Linked DNA regions of Homo sapiens: region 2 is linked to region 1. Evidence: fine-mapped QTL for protein levels in blood plasma. A gene starts in region 1. The other region holds a variant in brackets. All regions are shown on one strand. Distances are between the middles of the regions. Region 1 holds the start of ARHGAP25 (Rho GTPase activating protein 25). Region 2 overlaps ARHGAP25 (Rho GTPase activating protein 25).

Evidence for each region. PIP is the chance, under the fine-mapping model, that this variant and not a neighbour inherited with it causes the effect. The UK Biobank Pharma Proteomics Project read protein levels with antibody pairs (Olink). The fine-mapping took linkage between variants from a reference panel, not from the people measured, so its PIPs are less certain.
Region 2: its variant is fine-mapped to the plasma level of the ARHGAP25 protein (UK Biobank, PIP above 0.99).

The regions. Positions count from the first base shown.
Region 1 is chr2:68,729,230-68,741,427 of GRCh38, forward strand. ARHGAP25 (Rho GTPase activating protein 25) reads left to right here and starts at 5,582. Exons shown (of 11, transcript NM_001007231.3): 1 at 5,582-6,031. The coding sequence starts at 5,971. RefSeq lists an enhancer at 10,347-10,576.
Region 2 is chr2:68,762,237-68,774,434 of GRCh38, forward strand. All of the region lies in intron 1 of ARHGAP25 (Rho GTPase activating protein 25), which reads left to right. LOC105374790 (a long non-coding RNA gene) reads right to left here and starts at 434. Exons shown (of 3, transcript XR_940225.3): 1 at 370-434. RefSeq lists an enhancer at 9,195-9,244. The variant A/G (reference allele first, on the strand shown) is at 7,300.

The sequences.
Region 1 (12,198 bases):
TGGGTGAATTGCATGGTATGTGAATTATGTATCAATACAGCTCATAAAAAACAAGCAGTCAGGTGAAGAACAAACATGAGAAACTGTCTTCAAATGCAGATAACAGTAACAGAGATGACAAAATGAAAGACAAGGAAGTGACAGAGTGGAGAGCTAACATGCAGATAACTGATGCTCCTGAAGAAGATCCTAGAGCCAGTGGGCTGCAAATCAGAAATAAAGATATAAGAAACTCCCCCTGCACTGATTCCTTGCAAAATCACTCAGACACATCGACACCTAGACACATCCAACCCTTACAAATGCCCAATAAACACATTAAAAAATAACTTTAGTTCCACTATTTAATAAAAAAAGTATTTGCTTATTCAACTGAAAATGATTTATAATAAAAGCAATGATAATGCCAACTGTTAGTGAGGCTCTGAGGGAACTGGGCCCTACATATATTGTTAATGGAAACATAAACCGTAGAACTTTTTCATGTTTGTTCTTCACCTGACTGCTTGTTTTTTTATGAGCTTTATTGATACATAATTCACATACCATGCAATTCACCCATCAAAGTGTACAATTCAGTGATTTAGCAATTTGAGAGCACATAGCAAACCTTAGTATAAGTATATTCTTATTCACTTTCCCAGCATTTCTATCTCTAAGAATTCCCCCTGAGGGGGGAAAAGGACTAGATTTATCCAGATATTTAGCTATAAGAATATTATGAAAATTTATGCATATCTCCAATGCTCAATGACACAGGGATTTGTTAAATTAATTTTGCTCTCATCATATAATTAAAAATCATGAGGCCACTGATGATGTTTTGGAAAAATGCTTAATGACAGATACTTTTTCATGACTTTTTTTTGTTAAAGGAAGATAACGGTTTATAAGACAGCATATGCACCATTTAAAAAATTTACAATACATGCATACATACATATATTACATGTACACATGAGTAGAAGGTGAGGGAGAAGTAGGAAACCAAGAATGGGAAAAGTTCTTATTACACATTAAGTGGTAACAATGATTTTTATTTTCTTTTTGCTTTTAAAACACTTGTATGGTGATTATGCACGGACTTCTGTAATGGTAAAAATAATAACGAAAGATGTTTTAAGAGTTCTCCAGGCTGGACACAGTGGCTTATGTCTGTAATCTCAGCACTTTGGAGGCCAAGGCAGAAGGATCACTTGAACCCAGGAGCTTGAGACCAGCCTGGGCAACATAGTGAGACCCCCATCTCTACAGAACGAGTTTTTAAAAAATTAGCCGGGCATGGTAGTGAAAGCTTGCAGTCCCACCTGCTCCATAGGCCAAGGCGTGAGGATTGCTTAAGCCCAGGAGGTTGAGGCTGCAGTGAGCCATGATTGTGTCACTGCACTCCAGCCTGGTTGACAGAGTGAGACCCTGTCTCAGAAAAAAAAAAAAAAAAAGTTCTCCTCAGGCTAGAGTCCAACCCTTCAGCAAGTGCATCAGACCCTGGCCCCAGCAGCTCCTGCAACTTCAACTAGTGGGTATGGGGCATCTTTGGGGGCCATACATCATTTCTGATACTTCCCTAAATGGGGGCCGTATTTGTGTTTTCACAGCGATCTGCCATTTCATTTGCCTGGAGCGTTCTCCTCTCACTCCCCCACCTGGCTTCCTGACTATTGTCTCATGGGTCGCCTTTCCTGGGATGCCACCCAAGCAGAGGGAACCATTTCCTGCTCCCACTTTACCCTGTGCATGCACTATTTTTGTATCTTGCACGGCAAGTTTACACTTCTCTCTCATGACTCATTGGAGGATTAGGCTGGGTTCTTAATCATCCTTCTTGTTTAATCAGCATCCAACGCAGGCCTGTACAAATGTTTATGGAGTAAACGAGTGAATGAATGAATGAGTCTGTTTGAGCTCTAGGCTCACATGAGCCTTGAGTGCAGAAGATCTGCACTCAAGTGCCCCTTGGGTCCCTAAATCAACATGCCCCAAACTAAGCCCACCGTTTTCTCCTTGTTCCTCATTACCAATCCTCACTGTTTTTGTGCGTGCCCCATCTCTGTGATTGGAACTACACCCTTCCAGTGACGAGCTGGGATCTTGGGTGCCTCTTTTTTCTGCTGTAATAATTCTCCTGGGGCTATCAATTCTGTCACTCACATGACTCCTGTGTTGTTTTCCCTTCTTTCCATGCCCATGCTGCCGACCTCTCTCCCTCACTCTTCCTCTCTCTTAGATATCTGCCACAGCCTCCTCACCCCTATCCTGTTGAAAACTCCCTAGTGACCTCCGTTTTCCCCAGGATACAGTCAGAACTCTTTGTCAAGGTTTACCTGCCCTGTGTGATCCAGCCCTGCTCAGCCCTGACTATCTCTCCAGCTTCGTTTCTCCTCAGCCCCACCCCTTTCATCCTTCTTAGGAGCGACCTGAAGAACTTTCTTCTCTCCGTGCCTCATTCATATTGTTGGTTTTGTCTGGAATCCTTTTTCCAACCCCCTTGCCTCCCTAACTCATTTGTCAAGCCTTACTTTAAAAGACACTTCTTCCAGGAACCCTTCCTTCACTCCCCAAGTCCAGTTAGGCCCCTCGCATATACACCCCCCCTAGCTCCCTACACTTTCCCCAACATAGCTCTCTCACACTGTATTTAATCGTTCACTTAATTGTTCTTCTCCCCCAACAGACTGTAAGAGACAACAGCCGGTGTCAGGGCGGTGAGGTGGGGAAGCAGAAAACACGTCTGCTTGTTCACGAACGTTCTTCCAATGTCCAGCAAAAATTTGGTCCTTAATAAATCCGCTTATCATTCAACAAGCCAACAGATGGAACAATGTTTGCTTGCGCTACTGCAGATGCTAATTCAAACTTTGGGACCAGGCAAGGCATTTGGCTCTTCATTTTATGAAGATCAGAGAGAGGGAGCGCAGTACCCAGTTGACTGACCGAGAGAGAGCTCTGTGGTGGGGGAAGGCTGCTGTGTTGGGCCCTTGTGGGGAGTGTGCTTTCCATCTGATTGCCTTTCCGCATCTGCACAACTAACTTCCCCCATGGGTCACGAGTTTTTCCAAGACTGACAGGAACCTACCCTGAAAAGTAAAGGAAGTTCCCTGCGTGTTTCTTAATGACACCTTCAAAATATTTTCAACATTCCTCAGTTTAAAGGTCCCAGGACTGAAATTTTAGATGGTGTCGAATTCCCCCGTGGAGATGCTGCTGGGCCGGGCCAGACAGCTACCTCTCTCACACCCGCTTAATTAAGTTGGGATACGAAAAAGAGCAGTGGTGTTTGGGTCAGGCAGGCAGTAGTGCAATGTCTCCAAGTAGCTGAGTCAAGTTCAGCGGAATCCAGCTCCCTGGGGAGGCTGGAGGGTAGCTGGGTAGACTGGGTGAGTGTGGTGGATTGGAGTCTTGATCAGCAAACACTCCGGCCCTTCTTCCACCCCTCCGGCCCTTCTCCCTCCCCACTGCTGCTGAGGACTGGGTGTACTTCCGGCCTCACTGACTTTGAGCTTGGCCATGTGACCTGTGTTGGCCAATGGAATGTGAGCAGACAGGGTGTGCGCAGAGGCGTTAAATGCGCTTGCAAGGTTCTTCTCTCTTGTGCTCCTTTCATTCCTGAAGACAGGAGTATACACCAGGTCACCACTGTTCCTTCAGCCTCGTTCTCTGGATATACAGTTTGGATACATTTAGTTTGAGATGGCTACTATAGATCTAAGCAGAGATCCATGTGATTTGGAGTTCAGGGGGTCTGGGCTGGAAATACACATTGGAATCATCTGCAAATATGTGACATTTAAAGCCTTGAGACAGATGAGCTCACCAAGGTGTGAGTGTGGATGGAAAAAGAGTCCAGTCGAGTCTTGGTTTCCTTCAATATTTAGAGGTCAGAGAGATGAGAAGGAATCAGCAAGAAAACAGACACGGAAAAGCCAGAAAGGCAGGCAGACAGCCAGGCCAACCATGGGCCGTGGGAGCCCCATGGACAGAGGGCTCAGAGTTGGAGAGAGCTATCAAATGTGTCCGACACTGCTGATGGGCCCGTGAGATGAAGATGAAGCCCTGACCTGTGAGTTTAGTGACAGGGAAGTCGTAGGTATCCTTGATGAGAATATATTTTGTGGAGTCATAGGGGCAAAAACATCAACCAAGGGATTCGGGAGAGAATAAGAGGAGAGATATTTGCAAGTTAGACAATTCTTACTAAAGCTTGGTTCAGAAATGAAGGAGAGAAATGGGACTCTAGCCCAAGGGGGTGGTGGCATCCAGAGAGATTTTTTATGGGATAAAAAATAGTAAGTTTGAACGCTGACAGGAAGGATCAAAGAGAGAGAAGAAATTGATGATGCAATAGGGATGGGAGAGTGTTAACAGCCAGTTCACCCATTGTACCAAGAATAAGGTCAGGGATACAGCTTGCATGCAGGTAGGTGAGCAGATAGAGTGAGGGAAGCTTGTGGACATTCTCTTTCAGTTACATTGATTTTCTCAATGAAACGGGAACCCAGGTCGTCAGTAAGAGTAAGCAAGTGGCAGGTGAAGAAGAAAGTATGACAGAGTCATCTAGGAGAGTTGGAGAATGAATGGAGCAAGGCGTGCAGCTTAGATGCTGGCTAGCAGTGACTGTTCTGAGCACTTTGTACTGGCTTTTCTACTAAAGCCTCACAACAGCCTATGAAGTAAGCCCTATTATTTGCCCCATCTACAGATAAGAATTGAAGCACAAAGTGGTCAAGAAACTTGTCCATAGTCCCACAGCAGGAAAGCCAGGATTTGACTACCAGTGATCTGTTTCCAGGGCCCAAATGCTTAAGCACTAGGTTAGGCTGACCCAGTTAAACATGAAAGCTTGTCACAGAACTGAACTAAATAGAATAGAATAAAGGTTGAATTAATGTGTGTGGTGCAACCACTCTGTGTCAAGCTCTGCACTAGATTCCTCTGCAAAAACCCTTTGAGTTGTGGTTATTATCAACCCCATTTTACTGATGAGGACATTAAGGTCTGGAAAGATTCAGTTGCTTGTTCAAAAGTTGAAGAGCTAGCAAATGGAAGCCCACACCATGTATACAGCCCACACACCCTGATTCTAAAGCCCACACCCTGTGTACAATGCCAAAGAACCCTTAGGATATGTGAGTGGGTCGACCTAGCTTAAGTTGCTTCATTAAGCCAAATACATCAAAACCCTCCCTACATCAGGCTGAGATCACTTGCAAACTTTATCCTGAGCACCTGGAGAGCTTGCGACATGGTCCTTACAGCAGGAAGAATTTAAAAGAAGATAACTTTGGGGGAATGCTTGTTGTTTTTCTGACCATTTTTGGATGCTTGATCCGTTAGGTGAGGAAGAGGAGAGCTTAGAGTTGAAGTAGATGATGGGAGTTTCGACATTTTCTTCTAATTAAAACTGTAATCTTTTATAACAGAAGCAACCATTCTGGTTTTTCAAGCATTTCCAAAAACCATTTTCTCAAGAAAGAGTGCTCATAATGTATCATCTTCACTGAACAGCCACCCACTTCCTCAAATGCAAGGAAGCAGACAGTTAAAAAAGAAACACACACACACACACACAAAACCAAGAGGCAGCAGTTGTTTATCACGACCTCAACTCAGTAAGGCCTGAGATTCTTTCGAAAAGGAGCTTTGCTTCCCATGACGCAGAGGGAAGTGTCAACTGGGATATTTCTGGTAAAACTGAAAGCAAGAAAAGCAGGGTGCTAGCCCCTGTGGGACTGAGGGTGGAGGCTGGGGGAGTTTGGGTGCCATCCTCCAGTGACAGATGGATGGACCTTTCATCTAAGAGAAAGGAGGAGACACGTTGGCAAATCAGCCTCAAGCCTAAGATTGCTTGTGAAGCAATCATAAGGAGGAACAAAAACAGACACAAAAACAGAGGGAAAGAGTGAAAAGACAAGAAGGGCGCAAACTGTGACAGACTCACCGCTTCACTAACTACTCACTTAAACTGGAAGCAAAATGTCCCTAAAATTGCCAAGGAACTGGGATTTCAACCTGAAAGTGGAGGCTGCGAAAATAGGTATGGTTGGTGTCTTTTCGTTGCCTCTGTGATTCTTACGTATACTCGAGCACCATTTGCATGTTGGTCTGCAGGGAGCATAGTCTACTTAAAAATGGATCTCGCAGCAAATCTGAGTTTGAGGGACCATTTGCATTTAAGTTGGCATGCCAGGTCCAAGTTCTAAAATGCTGGGAGGGGGTTCTCTTTCATTTGGACAAAACAGTGGGATGGCACTCCTTGGTGTGCAGGATCTGGGGTACTTCGGATGATTTAAGGCTACAGACTACACACAAAACTGTGAGTTTTTAGCATATTCCATTTCCTTCCTGTTTGGAAACTCATCCATATTTTGAATGGTTCTGAACAGGAGCACAAAGACTAGAGTCTTTTGAAGTGCTCAATCTGTAAGTAAATTCAATGGGTGTTCTGTTTTGTGAGCCCAGGAGTCAAGGTGTATTAAAAGGTAGTAGCAAAAGGTAGACAACAAAAACAAGACAGGAACATAAAAACGTACTAAAGTATAATAAAGACCTTACTTAATAAAAATATAATTAAAGGAACAGAATGGGAGGGAATTCTTAGATGAGTTGGAAAAGAGATGTATTTTTTATTATTTTAAGGGAGACTGGCATATTTTCTGAGATAGTCTGGCCTTTAATCCATACCCTGTCCTTCTAATGATGATAGTGATACATTAAGTTTAATCTATATATTCGTTATGAAGTTCTTTACATAGATTTCTTCTATTGCTAAATTGGTCACAGTAATTCACATCAGAGCAATCGGGCTGAAAACTATTGCCTACATTTATGTATCTCACCCATACATGAGATAACTTCCTTGATATTAGATATAGATAAGTATTAAGGTGTTTCTAACAGCTTGGAGGAATTTTGCTTGGAAAAAGGTTTAGATTTGAACCTCTAATGGGGTTAAGTGTGCTACTAAAATAAGTGCTCCATTGAAAAGTCACAAGCGGAGCATTAATGATGTAGGTCTGAGAAAGGGTTTGAAAGAAAACAGAGTAATCAGAGAAGCCATTTATCTTGATAACTAGGGGAGATTAGCGTTCCCTAATCAAGCTGTGAATGATTGTATGCTGAGGTCAGTTCAGAGAAAAGGTAATGTTCATACCTCTTACAAAAGCAAGAGATTTTCCTCCTAACTATCATTGATACAAATGTACTTGGCTAATGCTCAATCTATGTCATACAAATTATATGGTTCTGTTCCTTTGAAAGTGTCCTGCTTCTACATAAATAAGGTCATTCTGCCTTCTCTCCACCTATGTTTGAACACAGGTTATTAGGGTCTTACTCTCCTTTGGTTTAAAAAACAAGAAAGTTGAGACAATTAATAGTTAAATGATTTTTTTCACAGATATAGGAAATTACCACACTAGAGCTCAAGACTGCATATACTCAGGTCTGGGATTTGATTGAGTGAATTTCATGATTTTTACCAATGTTTCTTAAAGCATGGTCCCATAGATAACCTATATCAGACTCACATCAAGTGCTGGCTAAAAATGCAGATTTCTGGGCACCATCCTTACAAAATCAGAATCTCTGGAGGAAGGCCCAGGATCCTGCATTTTGACAAGCACCCCCCACTTTCATCCTCACCTGAGGAAGAATTCCTGCTGTAGGTACTGTGGTCTATGTTCACTAGCCCCAGCAGACAGTTTTCACCCATTTAGTATAGGGCACAGTGCTTGTTCTTAACTGGGCACACAATAAATATTTGTTGGCTGAATGAATGCTTCAGCCAACAAAAACAAGCAGATGATGTTATTTAGTATTACTTAATGAAAAAATAATAATAAGGACATAATGAAATACAGAGGAGCCCTTGTCATTATCCATGCTATCTATAAGTTTGTCACCCTGAAGGACTGGACTACAGTAGGATGCATTTATAAGTGTCACATGAACTAGAATTCAGATCATAATCTGAGTCCTCTGATGGGGGAGAGCCCTTGACTCAGTCACAGGACTTCCAGTCCCCTCTCCAGCATCCTGTGTCCAGGTGTAACTGTAGGAACTGGCTTACCAATATATCAAAGAAACTTACCTCTATTGGGAAGACCTGTGGAACTGGGAGTTATGTCAGGAAAGCTGACAATCTGTGGTTTTAACGTTTTCTCAACCTAGATACCATTGACATTTGGGGTTGGATAGTTTTTTGTTGTGGGGCCTGTCCTGTGAATTATAGGATGTTTAGCAGAATCCTTGGCCTCTACCTTCTAGGTGATGGTAACACCCCCCTACCACTACCAGTTGTGACAAATAAAACTGTCTTTACATATAGCCAAGTGTTCCTTGGGGATGGGGGTGAGGGTAATATCTTCTCTAATTGAGAACTCCTGGAGTAGATGATCACCAAAAGGGTGGAATATAAGGTCATTTGGGACTAGAACCCAAATATTAACTCATGATTCACTCTGTAGCTCAATTTTTTGGAGGCTTTTATTGAGATCTGTCCTCAGGGAGCCAGGCCATAGCTTAGGAAGGACACTAGAATGGGCCCTTGGTGAAATAGCAAGACACTGACCCAGAATGTGACCCAGGAAAGGGGCCCTAGCTTTTTTTGATGAGCTATGCTTCCAGTTTCCCCAGAATCTTGTGAGCTGGAGTGAAAGTGAAAGTCTCTGAGAGCGAGGGGAGGGACTCTCCACTGTACTTCCATCTCAGAGCTGAAGAGGGTCTTGCTGGATGGCAGACTCACCTGAGTCCACTACCATGAGTCTGACAGATTTTCATGCAGTGATGAAGAAAAGTCACAGAACTTCCTGAATCTGACCTATTGATCCTGGCAGGAATAGGGGTTGGAAGAAAAAGGAAAATGCAGAACAAACAGTCTTGACTTGAGGTGGAGCCAAGAGCACACACTTCTTCCTGTGATCCTTTATCATTTTCAATTTTAGAATCATGACAGCCTTTCACTGCCTTCACGCAGTTACTCAAATATTTTGCCTTTTTAACTGAATTGTCATCACTGGAGGACAGGTCCAGACTTTCTGGACCTCCAGCCCCAGGTTACAGGGCTTTCTTGAAAGAGTTACATGGCTTCCCAATGACCAGGCCAGTCTACTTGAGCACATTTTGTACCTTATTTGAACACTGAAATGCTGGTTCCCCAGTTTCAGGAGAATCCTGAAACTATATAGCCCATGGTGAACTGATTTGTGTTTGTTTGATGTTCAGCTTTCTGAACATCAGAAAGTGGTGAGTGCTTTCTTTACAATTCATTACCAAACTTACTATATGCTAACCAGACCAGCCTGGGTTATGGACTGAATGTGGTCTGTTTGCTGTGCCCAAAGTATTTGCTTTCCATGAGTAGCCTCCGGTCCCTGATAGATAAAGGTCCCCGATAGATAAAGGTCCCCACACATGCAAGTAGAGTCACTGCTAAAAATACAAAAAATTAGCTGGGCATGGTGGCGGGCACCTGTAATCCCAGCTACTTGGGAGGCTGAGGCAGGATAATTGCTTGAATCCGGGAGGCGGAGGTTGTAGTGAGCCACGATCATGCCACTGCACTCCAGCTTGGGCGACAGAGCAAGACTCTGTCTCAAGAAAAAAAAAAAAAAAAGAATATGAACATGGCCTTCTGTAGACAGTGAACAGCTACACAAGGGAGCTGTTCCTTCCAGGGCCCACTCTATTTTTATGCAGAGGTTACATTGCCATTGGTTATTTAAGTAAAAATGTCTGTCCGTAATGTTGCTGTTGACTTAACATTTAGGCATAAATTAAATTCTCTCCACGAAGTGCATGCTTCCTGTTGCCCAGGCCAACAGCCTTCTGGCCATTTGAGGAAAAAGGACTGATGTCACCTCTGGGCCTTCTGCAGCAGCAGCAGAGTGGGGACCAACCTAAGTGGTGATGGGAAAACAGGACCTGGTTTTATATCCACTCATGCACAAAATTCCCCCTGTACATGCCAGATGAGGTCAGCTTAGATTCTGTACTTTGTCTGAGACTGTGCACTTGGATTGGCAGAGGCTAGCTTGATGGTTCTTATTGCCTATGTGTCTGAAACTAGGCCAGGGTTAAGATGCCCAATGGCCCTGGCGTGGGTATACATCACTATAAGTCACTTCATTAATGGTAGTGCTGCCATCTCCCTGTCTCTCACCTCACAGTTATGAAGCATCTTCATGTAGCATCCAATGGGAGAACTCTGTGGAGACTCCACCAGCTGGAATGTGATCCTTTTGAGTAAGGCCCACTATGGGGGTGTTGGAAAGATGCTGGGACCAATTGAGAGAAGTAAGTTGATGAAAATGGTCCTATCACACACAAGGCAGCTTGAGGAAAGAATCTGGCATGAAGGTGCACCCCAGTCGAGTGGTCTGAACTTGTGTTAAGATACAAGACATGGGAGGGAGTGAAGAGCAGAAGCAAAGTCCCACTGGTGGCCACAGCAATTGAGACCAAATAGTACCGGAAGAGCATGACGGAGAGCCACAGCGAGGCACAGGCAGATTGTGGGGATTCTGTCACAGAGGATGGCATGGAAATTTTGTAGAGTCCCCAGACAGGAACTGAGATACAAAAGTTACAAAGAGAGAAAATAATTGACATTTTTTGTGTTATGCTTTACTCATCATCCTTTTTCTCTTTGAAAGCTTGTTTAAAAACCAAAAGTCACTTTGCAAAGAAAAAAAAAATGATACCCATAGGTCTGGCAGACCTAGAATATAACTTTGTCTTCTTTGAGGGACTGCAGTGCTTCCTCATTTCTAGTAAGACAGGAGTGCAACTTACTGTGTTCTCTTTGTCTTGGCTGCCAGGAAGCTGAGCTAAATATGAAATATGAAGACAGTCCTGTAGGGCATACAGTTCAGTGGGGGCAGAGACAAGGAAACAACTGCAAAGCGGTGAGACAGGTGCTGTGATGATGAGAACAGCTATGGGAGTCCCAGATGGTGCCTAAGAGGAATTCTGGCCCCACCACCCCTGTTCCCATCACTGCCATTCACCTTCTTTAAGATCTAGGTGCAGATGTTCTTGAGGGGGCCCCAGACTCGCTGTCTTTCTCACAGTGATTTTCCTGCACATTGTATCTACTTTTTTGGAGAAACAGAAGGCTTTATACTATGTATAGACCCTCTGCATGAAGGAATTAAATGGAAAGTCTTTATGATCTGGCCCTTCTTACCTGCCCACCTCTCTCTTGCCACCTTCCCTTCTCCTGCTGCACACTGGAGACTTCAGCCACATCCTCCCTTCTGTAGCTTCCAGCTCTTTCTCATCTGCCTGGAGCCCTCTCTCCATCTGGGTCTCCCTTACCACCACCAGTTCCTACCCATGCTTTGGTCACAATGTAAACATCTTGTCCACGGGGAGTCTCTAGGTCTTCTGATCACTGGAGAGAGAGTATAAAAATCCTTTCCCAGGCCATTTAAACAGAGAAGTTTACAGCTCTCAATACTATGGACTTCCTTTTAGATAAGAGCCATGAACATTTCTGAACATGCATATATGAGTCAACCCCACAAGTAACTGATCCTTTGGCTTTTGAACAAAATGAGTTGTTCTTAATACGGTATGTAACACCAGCACTCTAGGCCCTCACTGGGGAGAATAACCTCAGATTGCCCAAAGAAAGGGGCTAAATTGTCCATTGACTCTTCTTGATAAAAATTGTGAAAGAAAGGAGGACGTGTGATATAGGAAAGTGTGCATGAGCTTGGGACTCTGCTTTAAGCAGTAGTGAATCTGGGGCAAGTTGCTTAGCTTCTACAAATGAGAGAGTAACACATATGCTGAGAGGAAGAAAATATTTCATGCGTATGACATATATTAGGTGCTCAGCAAACATCTCTTTCCTTTCTTTATAGGCAGTCTCATTTCCAACCTCAGATCAGACTAGAAGCTGTACTTGGATTACATTATCTTGCTACCCTCGCAGAATAGGGCTCACTGAGTTGTCTTTTAATGTTATATCTTCAGTTTATAGCTTCCCTGCAAGTAATGATTTCATGAAATCTGCTCCTAATTGTACTGGAAAAATGAGAATGAAGAATGGAGAACGCCAGCAACTTCTATGTATAACTCTATGTGAGAAAGTTGCTTGGGAATTCAGTGCTCAGAAAATAACTTTGTCTTCTTTGAGGGACTGCAGTGCTTCCTCCTTTCTAGTAAGACAGGAGTGCAACTTACTGTGTTCTCCTC
Region 2 (12,198 bases), 33 kb after region 1:
AAAAGGAAGTTAACTCTGTAATGGGTACAGAATTTCAGTTTTTCAAGATGAAAAGAGTTCTGAAAATGGATGGTGATGGTTGTGCAATAATGTGAATGTACTTAATACTACTGAACTGTACAATCAAAAATAAGATAGTAAATTTTATGTGTGTTTTACTGGAATAAAAATAATTGGGAAAAAATAAATCACGCAAGTTATAATTTGAGAAAAATAGCCCAAGTCAAATATTACAACTCATTTTTCATCTTCAAAAGCTCTCGTATGCTATTAGATGTGCTAAGCCAGAGGGATTTGGAATTAGGACCGCATCCTGGGGTCCCGGTGTTAGCCTGTTGAGTCACCCCCTCATGGTTCTCCTTCTTTTACCTCCTGTTTGTGCATCTCTGGTTCCTGCTTCTTCAGCCTTTGCACAAAAGCTTAGTTGGTCCTTCAGTGACTACTGGCTAAAAACAAACAGAAAAAGAAAAAAGAAACAAAAATGGTGTTCTTCTAGTTCTTCCATGAGAACTGTGAAGGAGTGGCCAGCCAAAAAGAAATGTCAAGCAGAGGCTAGTGTGTGGGCCAAGAAAGTCCAGGTCAGACAGAAACACTACAGTTGCTCACAGATACATACAAAATAAGTCCTGACATTTTTGTGAGGACCTTGGGTGATAAAAGGGAAACCCCCTAACACATTTTTCAGGCAGCTGATAATGTTTGACAGCTTTGAAGAGGAAACAGAACTACCAGATGTCAGTGGCTGAATCACAGGGAAAATACTGCATTCTGCAAAGCCTTACTCAAGCATCATGAAGTGTAGCCCAAAGTTGATAGAAATGCTGATAAATAATAAAATTTTATGAAAAAGTAAAATCTCGATACTTTTTCACAAGTCACTAGCTGTAACCAAGACAATGATGTTGGCTTTTTTGTATTTGATCATCTTTCATGAATTTTAGAATGCTTTCTTTATCAAACTCTAAAAAATCTTTAACAAAATTGCAAAGTGTCACAGCAGTGAAAATTTTCATAAACTTCACAGCTCTCAATTATATGACACAGTAGAAGTATCAGAAGTATTCTGCTGTGTCATTTTCTGTTTCTTTGAAGATTCTCTGCTGTACTTCATCATTTTTCCATATACAGTTAAAACACCAAGCAAATATTTGGCCTGAATCCTAAAAATGTTTAATTCTTCCAATTTTCTGTAGTTGCATTTTCAGCAATACAGAGCGTTCCTTCAATTCTTCCCTCCCCTTTTTTCGGTTTGAGATACACTTTAACACCTAAGAATGTGATCTTCTGTTCTTTATAACTAACATTTAATATAAACTAATGTTGAATTTATCAAAAGCAAGTTCATAATCTTTGAAAACATAAGACTTTTTAAATTATTGATGGGCTAAACCATTTACTAGTTTTTTAAATATTGAAGTATTCTTGCATTCCTGGAATATTCCAGACATTTGAGTGACAAAACAGTCAAAAATCTCTAACTCTGCAGAGTTTCTGGCATGTTTCACCACATAAAAAGTGTAGAAAATTATTCTCATTTTTTCTGCAGAAACTGTTCTACTCTTCACTGTTTCCATGGTGGGTTTTTTGTGTGTATGGCAGTTATATATATTATTTAGTTTCTAATCTTTCTTTTAAAAACTTTACTGAGGTATAATTTATATGCCATAAAATTCCTTCATTGTAAGTATACAATTCAATGATTTTTAGTAAATTTATAGGGTTGTGTGATGATTACCATAGTCCAGTTTTAGGACATTTTTATTACCCCAAAAAGTTCTCTCCAGCCGTTTTGCAATCAATCCCTGCTCTCACCCTCAGTCCTGGCAACCACTGTCTCTACAGAATTGCCTTTTCTGGATATTTCTTATGCACAGACTCATATAATTTGTTGTCTTTTGCATTCAGGTTCTTTCACTTAGCTGAATGTTTTTGAGGTTCTTTGTGTGGCATGAATCAGTCCTTTGCTCCTTGGTGTTGCCAAGTAGTATTGCGCTGTTTGGCTTTCCCACATTTTGTTTATCCAGTAACCTGTTTGTGGCTTCTGGATTGTTTTCAGTTTTGACCATCATCTATAATACTGCTAGAAACATTCACATTCAAAAACTGTTATGGACGTGTGCCTTCACATCCCCTGAATAGATTCCCAGGAGTGGAATTGCTGGGTGCTATGGCAAGCTTATGTGTAACTTTTTAAGACGCATCCAGTTAAGGGGTTAAGGGAGGGTAGCTACCCTCTCTGTTGAAGGAAAGTTCATTTTCTTCTTGTTTTTCTTCTTGTGTAGCTCCAGGTTAGGTGGACAGGCACCCTCTGTTCTCACTGGTATCGTGACCTGGTTGAGGAGCCAGCAGGACAGAGCTGTTACTTTTTGTCTGGCCTGACTTTGGGCACCCAGGGTAAACTGGAAATAACATGCCCCAGCCAGACCTCTGTGCGCACTTGGAAGGAGCTCTCAGGTCTCCATCTGTTCCCTGCCTCCATGCTGCTGCTGTTCCTCTCTAGGTGTTGTTAGTGCAGGATTTTCTTGGGCCCTTTCCGCTCCCTCTGGGGCAGGCTGTTCCATATGCATTGAGTTGTGAGACCAACAGCTTTCTTCAGTTTAGCCTTGCCTATCCTACATCTTGCAGAAATCCGTCTTCCCCCCAAATGGCATGCAGATAGAATCCTTCTTTACTTTTACTTTCATTTTAGATCTCCCCTTGTTATTATTGAGCTAGTCCCTTTGTCATTTTAATGGAAATTTGGAAATGGAAGCTCTTGCCATGAGGTCACCTAGAATTCTAGGTGGTCATTCCTTCCTGAGTTCCCTCACAGACCACCCTTGGGCTCCCTCCGGTTTCTGCTGCCCTTTCTCTCTCTCTGCCAGTAAGTGTTGGGGTAAAAGCTGACTTTACAGGAAATACTATCCATACTGGCAGCCTCAGTAAGTCCCTCAGTTCTTCCCATTCATCAGCTGATAAAGTGACAGTGCAGGGATATGGAGGCGGATCTGTCTGGGAGGGAATGTGTACGTAAGTGGTATAACATCTGTGTAGTGTCATTCCGCTGTGCTCTGAGGAGTAACAGGTCTGAAATGCAGACCTTGGAAAATAGACAAGTTGAAGTTTAGAGCAATAGTTGACATGTAAAAAAAAAAAAACCCAACAAGCCTATTGAATTTATTTTTAAGCCTAATAAAATATTTAAAAAGATCATTTATTATATCAACATTCCAAACACAACAGAGAAAATATAATGAACCCCCATGTAGACCCACTACTGAAGTTCAACAGAATATTTCGTCACATTGTTTTATCTATCCCTTTCTTTTTCTTTTATTCCCTTTTATGCTAAGATATTTTAAAACAAATCCCAGACACATTTTCCCCATGCTTAAGTATGCATCCTTAAAAATATGGAAATTTTATTTTCTAGCCACATTGTCCTGATCACGCCTAACAAAACTAATCAATAATTCATTGGTATCATCTATCCTTTATCCATGATCAAATTGTCTCAGTTTTTAATGAAATCTTTTTATCAGGTTGTAGAATAGGAGAAACATATTATGACTCGTTTCCTGGGCCCACCCCACTGCTAGCATTATTCATTGGTCACTTTAACTCTCAGTAGTGTTAAAGTTTAAAATCACTGTTCCCTAAGACCTGTAGAGGCCCCAGAAACTGACTGGAGTGACGTCTGTTAGGCTGTAATGGCTTGTAGCCTCCTCAAGGGCCAGTGCTTGATGGTAGTTGCCAGTACTTGAGCATTGCCCTGGAAGGGTCCTTCCTGTGAATTACTCAGGCCATATAATTCATCCATGCTTATGCAATACAAATATTTCAAGCATCCTAATGCACTTATTTATTTATGAATGCTAGTGACTAGTGAACCAAAACCTCTTACCTAAAATAAATGACTAGCTTTGGCAATGGAGGGGTCAGTACTTCGATTGCTCTTCCTAATGTAACACACCACTAGGGTGTTGGGCAGAGCTTACTGCACTAATTATCCTGCAGTCCTACCTGATGAGAATTGTTCTTCCTTACACTAACGCCTGGGAAAGCAGGTAGCTTGCATATGCAGTTAACCAGCTACATTGTCAAAGAATTTTCTACAGAGAAAATTTGCCCTCTGATTGCCAAATCTCCACTTTGCCTTGTGCTGAGGAAGAGGCAGCTCTGGGGCAGTGTTCTTCCGCAAGCTTCTTGTTATTACACGTGGCTTCCTGTTATGCAGAGACAGGCGGAGAGGGCTGGGTAAGGTGTTGCAACTGATGGAGACACACAGACCCACAAGAGGCAACTGCACTCTAAATTCCTAAGAAACACGAAAGCCACAAAACATGAACACTGGAGGGGTGGCCCTGGAGAGGCACCCTAGGTGAAACAAATTTGCTGGCGTGCAAAAAAACCTTGCAATATTTGTTGCTGGCTCAGGTTTCCAGAGCTGCTGATAAGAAAGAAGTAACAGAAAGCCAGTACTCCTCTCTCTCTCCCCTTCTCTCTCTCTCTCTCTCTTGTTCTCACTCTCTGTCATTCTCTCTCCCTCTCTCTTGTTCTCACTCTCTGTCATTCTCTCTCCCTCTCTCTTTTTCTCTCTCTCACACACACAGATAATTTCTCTCCCTCTGTCTCATATTGCTACCAAGACAGCATTTTTTACCTCTTCCTGCAGAACACATAGTTATTGGTGCCAAGCCCCTTTCCAAAGCAGATTCTTTTCCTTTAGGTTGACATAGTCACTTGTCAAACAATAAAGGGCATTTCTAGAATCCATAGAACATGGGAAAATGAAATCTGCCCAATTCCGGAGTATTGAGGCAGGCATTTAGGGAACAACTTTTAGATATTTCTATGAATTCGGTTATACAAATTTGTCTCAAGGGTGAGTGCCCTGGGAAGACCCGTGTGGTTTAATTTCAGGGTACAGAGAGAAGGCTCCTTTGCTGTCATCAGTCTCACAGTAAAGATGCCTTTTGAAGGGGCAGTGCTTTTCATACTAAAGTTAAAAACGAAACTCAAAAGAATGATGGGTGCTTTTCAATGGGGGGGTGGCGTTTGCTTTGAAGACAGAAAAGGGATACAGAAAGCGAGCCTGAAGTTTCTGAAGTCACATGTCCTAATTTCCTTCTGGGTGGAAACTGAGGGCCATCATCCCGCAGTCTGATAACAGGATAGGTGGGGGGTCTGCATGTATGTATGTGTGAATGTGGCAGGGGCGTTGCGTGTGTGTATGTGTGCGGGGTGTGGGCAGGGACGTATGAATCTGTTTATCATTTTCAGGTGGTAGCAATGCCAGGTCTGCTGTTTCAGAGAGCTCCCCAGTCGGCTCCTTCCTCAGCTGTGGTGTGGGCCTGACTGCCGGCCCACGGTAGCTTAGCTCACTCTCTCTCCCTCCCATGCCTCGGCCACGTGGGACCTTGCTCAGAATCCCTAGGTCTCTCCACATGAGCTTGGGTAGCAGCTGGTAAGACGTGGCAGGATTACCTAATATGTCCGTTTTCTTGTTGGGGTATCAGCACAGCCTCAGTGGTGGGCTTGAGGTTTCAGTACCATTTCTCTGTCACTGTGTTTTCGAGGCCTGCTGAGCCTTGCAGAGCATACACTGGCGGAAATAGCACAAAATTGTTTGTGCACAATCTAGAGGCAAAATGGGTGGGGCTGAGGCAGCTGCTTCACATGATAGGTTAGGAGTAGTGGCTTTGTTCCCAGCTCAGTGAAAGGTGGCATGGTCTCTCCTGTCCACTTCACTCTGGATTCTTTAACCCTGTGAATTACTAGACATGGATTCCATCTCCAATGTGGATGCCTCTCTTCACCACAAGAATACATGCTCCTTTCTGGGCTGTGGCTTAGGTATGGATATTGGGCTTTGAAATCAGATTTCTAGTTGTTAACTGGAGCAGATCATTTCACCTCTGTGAGCTTTGGTTCCTGGTCTGAAAAATGAGGGTGACAGTATGGTACTTACATAAAGAGCATGAGCATTAAATGACACAGCTCTATAAAGTGCTTGCACTGTGGCTGGCTCGTGGTAAGTACTCAATACATAAGTAACTTGATATTCATTATTGTTAGATCAGGGATTATATCTTCCATCGTCCACTCTGCTCAAGTGGATGCAGTGAACATATCCAGAAATCCCGCCAATAGGTAAATTGGCCAATATTTCTCGCAAATACAAAATGCCTGCATGGTGGCTCACATTTCGTTCTAAAACATTTATTTTATTAACTCAGCAAATATTTATCAAGATGCTTCAATTGCCAGATGCTTTTCTAGGAAGTGTGGAGCTTTACTAAAAATCCCAAGGAAAACAGCACCCTTTTCTGTCTTGCATCTCAGTTTATCCCCACAGCCTCAAGTTAGAAATGCTTCCCTCTGTGCTGGTTTCCTCTATGCCATCTTTTCTTTGGTTCCTGAACGTCTATGCAAATAACTTTTCTGGTCTGAGATTTTCACGTCACTCAAATCTTCTGGCTTTCACTTGCACCTCTTTTCTCCCCCTAGTCTCTTTCTTAATTCATAAGCCTTACTTATCAAAAGCAAAACTCTCGGGAAGCTTGAAGCTCTCAGTCCACCCTCACACTTTATCATGTCCAGAACTGGACTCACCTGCCTGTTCAAACTGGCCTTGTTCTCTGATTTCCTTTCTTGCTTCCATGAATGGGTCTCCCAGATCCATCAGGGCTGTGTCTGGCTGATCTCATATCCTCAGGACCCAAAATTGTTCTGGTGCATGTCAAGTCCTCAATCTTGAATGAATGAATGAATGAATGGGGAAGGCTACCTTACCAGAGCCACTCAAACCCCAGACCTCACAAAAATCTTTGTCTCCTGCTCCTCCTTGTTCAGCAGGGGGCTGAGTCCTCTCAGTATTAGCCTCTCATATTGTTTCCTCTTCCATCCTAATCCAGGCTTCTGGCTTTGCACCTGGAATATTGTGCAATGTCCAGCCAATCTCCCTCTATACCATCTCTCTCCCTCTTTTCATCCCTCCCCTCTGTAATATTCTCTTTCTTTTCTCTCATTTAGAATAAAATTGAGTCCATACTATAATAATAATGTTAATAATAATAGCTTTCATTTAATTTCTATGTTTTAAGAAGCAGGCACTGGCTGGGACCTGTCCACTTACCCTTACTAATCCCTATGGATTTATCACCCCATAAGATGCATGTTATTATCACAGCTTTACAGAGGAGGAAACTGGCCCTCAGAGATAGAATACGGCTTACCCAAGGCTGCGTATGTAGAAGCCTGTGCACTTCTGCTACTTTCTCCTTCCTTCTCTCTGTTAGGCACTGTGTTAGGTGCACG[A/G]TACAAGGATGAGCAAGGCCAAACATCAAGGGAGTACCCCTGTCTTCTTAGAGTGCAAGTGGAGAGGGAAGACAGGAAAAGAAAAAAGTACCAAGCAAGGCGACAAAGGCTACGATACACAGGTGTCTCCACTGACAAGGGTCCAGAGCCAGGGAGCAACTAAGTCTGGCAGGGCCAGGAAGGCTTCTCACAGGAAGTGGGGCCTGAAGGGATTCTTGAAGGATAAGTAAGAGTTTTCCAAGAGGTCAAATTGGATGTAGGTGGGGGTGGGTAGGGAGGACATTCCAGCAGAGAGAATAGCATACTGTCCTGGATAAAGAGCAGGATGGGCATGGAGAAAGAGCAGGAAATGCAGCAGAAAAAGCCGCAAAGGACTCCAACTCCATGGCAGTTTAGACTTCATCGTTTAGGAGGGAGATGCTGGGGGTCATCAGAGGCTTTTAGGCAGGAAGGTAACATGATCAGAATTCTGTTTGAGAAGGCTCACGTCATAAGCAATGCTGTCAGTGCTGAATATAAGGAACAGGCAGCCTTCTGTGTTGATTGGTTGGCTGGGAGAATGTCACTCAAGTACATCAGAGAGACCAGCGGAGGTAAAGCAGGTTTGGGCATGTGTGTCAGTGTTAGCCAGAGGAATGGTAGAGGTGAGAAGGGGAAAGGTGGTAAGTTTGATGAGGTGGTAAGCATGATGAGCTTGACATTCTCATGGAGGTGTGTTAGGAAGCTGGATGGATGGGTCTACAGCTCAGAAAGGAGGGCTGGGGGAAGCCATGCAAATTCTACTCCCTTTTCAAATCCATTTAAACATGGTTCCCAAACTAATGCACAGCTCATATCAACATACTGGGAAAATACCTGAAATTGTTTCCCCAGCTCTGAAAGAACTATTCACACCTCACCCACACATTTACAGCCATCCAAAGTGGAATCTAGACTGAGTCAGAATTGAGAGCAGATTATTTTGAGGGTTCAGCGGCAGAAGATGAAGAAAGGAAGTGATAACGTTTCTCAGCTGACTTCTCTGTTCGTACTTCCTTCTTTAATTTTCCTTTGCCCCATCTTGGGGCAAAAAGCAGCTAACTTCTACAGCAGAAACAACATCCCTAGGCATGTGGCACTTCTTCTATTTCTCTTCTTTCCTTTCCAGTACTCTCTCACACCTGCAGACTAAAATTCAGCACCAACAGTCCAGTCATACAACTATATTTTATCATGGGCCTCCCTTGCTCAGGAATATGAAATAGCTCCCTACTACCTCTCTAATCAAGTTGAATGCCTCACTCTGTCATCTAAAGCATCTTCTTCTCTGGGCCCTCCAGCTTGATTTCTCTATTTGATAAAATGCTGCCTCACTTTTATGGCCCATTTCCACCCCACGCTTTGTAATGATAGCACTCAGGTTCTGGGAAGTGCTGACCAGCAGAACTTTCTGTGATAGTGGAAATGTTCTCTATCTGTTGTCCAGTACTGTAGCCACGAAACACACAGGCTTACTGAGTACTTAAAACATGGCTAGTATGACGGAGGAACTCAATTGTAACTTAATGTAACCTATTTAATTCATTTAAATGTACACAGCCACTTATGGTTAGTGGCTACTGTACTAGACAATGCAGTGCTAGGGGCTTGCTCATCCTCTCTCTACTAGAATAATGTGAGGTTTCTAACCTTATTGAGGCCCTCATTTCTCACTTGCCCCAAGGTGTTCTGTAAACACTGAGCAACTGCCTTCCCACCTTTCCCCGCCCTGGTCTGCCTGCAGCCCCCTCTCCAACCCTCCGCCTGGTTCAGACCTGCTTCCTGAAGGGCTGGGAATGTGCACTCAGGGTACAATGACTGGCTCACAAGTGAAGCTTATCATGGTTATTATTTTCATTATGAGAAACAGCTCCATTAATAGTAACAGATCTCTTTGTTTACTTTATCCGGAACAAGTCCCACCCACAAAGAAGAGAGACTGTTCAAAGAACCTAACAAGGAAAGTTGGTCAAAACCATGACAAACTCAAGGCCCCCAGACTTTCTTCTCTGCTATTTTAATGATCTCATGCTAGGCCTGGCTGGTGAGCAACACTGTGGGCTATGGAGGGAGATGGCTCTGCACTTGGGATGGAAAGTGCCCCTGCTTAATCCCCAGCTCATCTGAGACCCCAGCTGTCTCCCTACCCTCAGGGTTTGGGCCTAATTCCAGCAGTGTGGAACTTTGTACTGAGCTATCCCCACTCTCTAACTTATAACAGGTGGCCCAGTGCTCATAGTTACACAAACTATGGTGGGATGTTAACAGGCACTAAAGAAACACTGGTTGGATGTAGAGTGAGTGGTATCCTTTATGGATATAAAACATGGCCAGGCAGAGCCTTGTTCATATGTAAGCAGACAAGCTGGTTGCCTTTCTGCTACAAGGGCATCAAAGGTCCCCTTGGCCAGGTCTGGGAACATAAGATCCTCGCACTTACTCCTGCCTTTGCCAGGTCATTCTGCAACGCACACGTGCTCCTAGGAGGGTTTTTTGTTTGTTTGTTTTTCTTATAGTTGTTTTTGCCACAACAAAGCATGAAAAATTTCACAGAACTGTGAACAAAATACCAGCAACTAATTTCTTCTATGCTGAGTGAATTCTTTCCAATCTGTAGTATCTTTTTCTCTTCTGCTAACCGCTTCCCACTTCTTCAATGCTGTTGGAGACCTTCAGTTTCCCCTAACCCCCACTGTGGTCCTAATGATGTCTGTGGGCCTCTGGGGGTGGCCCAAGGGGCCTGAGTCCTTCTAGCCACCATGTGGCACTTCCCCTCACTCCTGAGTTGGCTCCATTTGATGGCATCACCTCAGAAGCCAAGTAAAGGTTCCTCATATGCCACTGCTAGAAGGGGGTCCTCCCTATCATGTCTGATGTTGCTACAGTTGGATGGTCACAAAAGCCACACCGGGATAGACTTCACTGAGGCTACTGAAGTGGGGGAGAATGCCTCTGCATCTGCTGGAATGCCTCACTCTTCGATTTTCTCCAAAAGTTTTGTGTGTAAACTATCTTTTTCATTTTTGCCTACTCTCTGCCCTCTTTCTAGGACAGATAAGAGTCCTTGCAAGGTATAGTCTCTGACTTAGAGAGATACAGAACTGTATACAGTCCTTCAAATTCCCTCCTCCCCATTGTATTCTGCCAAAATCTTTCTGTAGTTCTTTGGGGATCATTTCCACAGCCTTAGAGCAAGTGATCAGCCCACACTGGCTGCTTTTTAATTACAGATAGAAGGCCTTGAAGATAGCAAGTAACTGAGGAGCAAGATCTCAGATAAAGTTCTTAACTGGGATGCTAAGACACACTGATATAAAGCAAATCCTTTGTAAGCAAGCTACCAAATTGTCATCAAAATATCAAATTATCTTTTCTACATCTGAGCATAAGCACTCTTGTGATGATGTCTGTCCAATGGGAAGCTGAATCAAATATGTCTTGCAACGTGGGATACAACCTAGTATGACCTCACCAGGTCCCTGGTGGGAGGTAAGAAGTGACTGCCAGATGGAACCAGGTATAAGGGCATATTATGGGAACTCAGACCCCTTGTGAGGGTCAAGGGAGCCCAGTTACAGTGGAGTCCTCTTCAGACAGCAATATTGGACCGAAGGATGAAATGTGGAAATAGGGTGATAACTCCAGATACAATTGGAGATAGCTACAGAAAGACTCTGTAATGCCATATAAAACTCTGGTGTTTGAAAGTATGCCATGATTATAAATAAAGATTGAGAATCACAGGCGTAGAAGGAGATAGAAATAAGAGAATCAGAAAGAATGAAATTCTGTCCTTTGCAGCAACATGGATGGAGCTGGAGGCTATTTATCCTAACTAACTCAGAAACAGAAAATCAAATATCCCATGTTCTTATTTATAAGTGGGAGCTAAACAATAGGTATACGTGGACATAAATATGGGAATAATAGGCACTGAGGACTCCAAAAGTGGGGAAGGCAGGAGGAAGGTGAGGATTGAAAAATTACCTGTTGGTTACAATGTTCAATATTTGGGTGATGGATACACTAGAAACCCAATCCCCACCATTAGGCGATGGACTCATGTAACAAACCAGCACGTATACCCCCTGAATATATTTTTCAAAATCAATGAGGAGATGTTGGCAATTTAATGCATTAAAGATAGGAAAGAAGAAAGAGAGGAAGCTTGATGATGGAATGACATTTTGAAGTGAAGAGGGAAGTTGAAGAAGCTCTCAGTGATGACTCCCATCCTTTTAGTAGGAAGTAAAGTCACCTGTTGATAAAAACAGCAAGAGTAACATATACTTACCTTTGACCAGGGACTGTGCTAAGTGGTTTGCGTATGTTTGTTTAATCTCTACAACAATTCCATAAACAAGGAAGTATTATTATCCTAATTTAGCAAGTGAGGAAGCCGAGGCTCAGAGAAGCATAATTTATCCACCGTCAAAAAGTCAGGAAAGGTAGAACTAGTCTCCAATCAGGTGAAATGAAATGGGTCGGGAGCAGAGTTGATAGCTTAGTTTAGCTGTGTCATGAGTGGTCCAGGGATGGACAAAAGCTGAAAAAGGGGGTTGGAAGATGGAGCCTTCCTCCAGCAACACTTGGCAGAAGGAGAGGGGTGCAGACACTGGGTATTAGCAAGTGTGGAGGGCAGTGCAGGCCAAGGAGACAAGGGCATCATTGAACTGGCTGGGAAATAAGATGGGGCTCAGAAGGAAGTGTTGAATGGGGACCAGGGTGATCGATGGAGCGCTGTGGAGGGAAGGAAAGGAGAGCATGGTCCTGGGTGGGGGTTACCATGGAGACAAGATGTGGAGGTACAGGCTGGACTTACTCGAATGACAGGCAGAACTCCTGTGTGAAAACAAAAGCCAAATATACCATGCTGAGTGC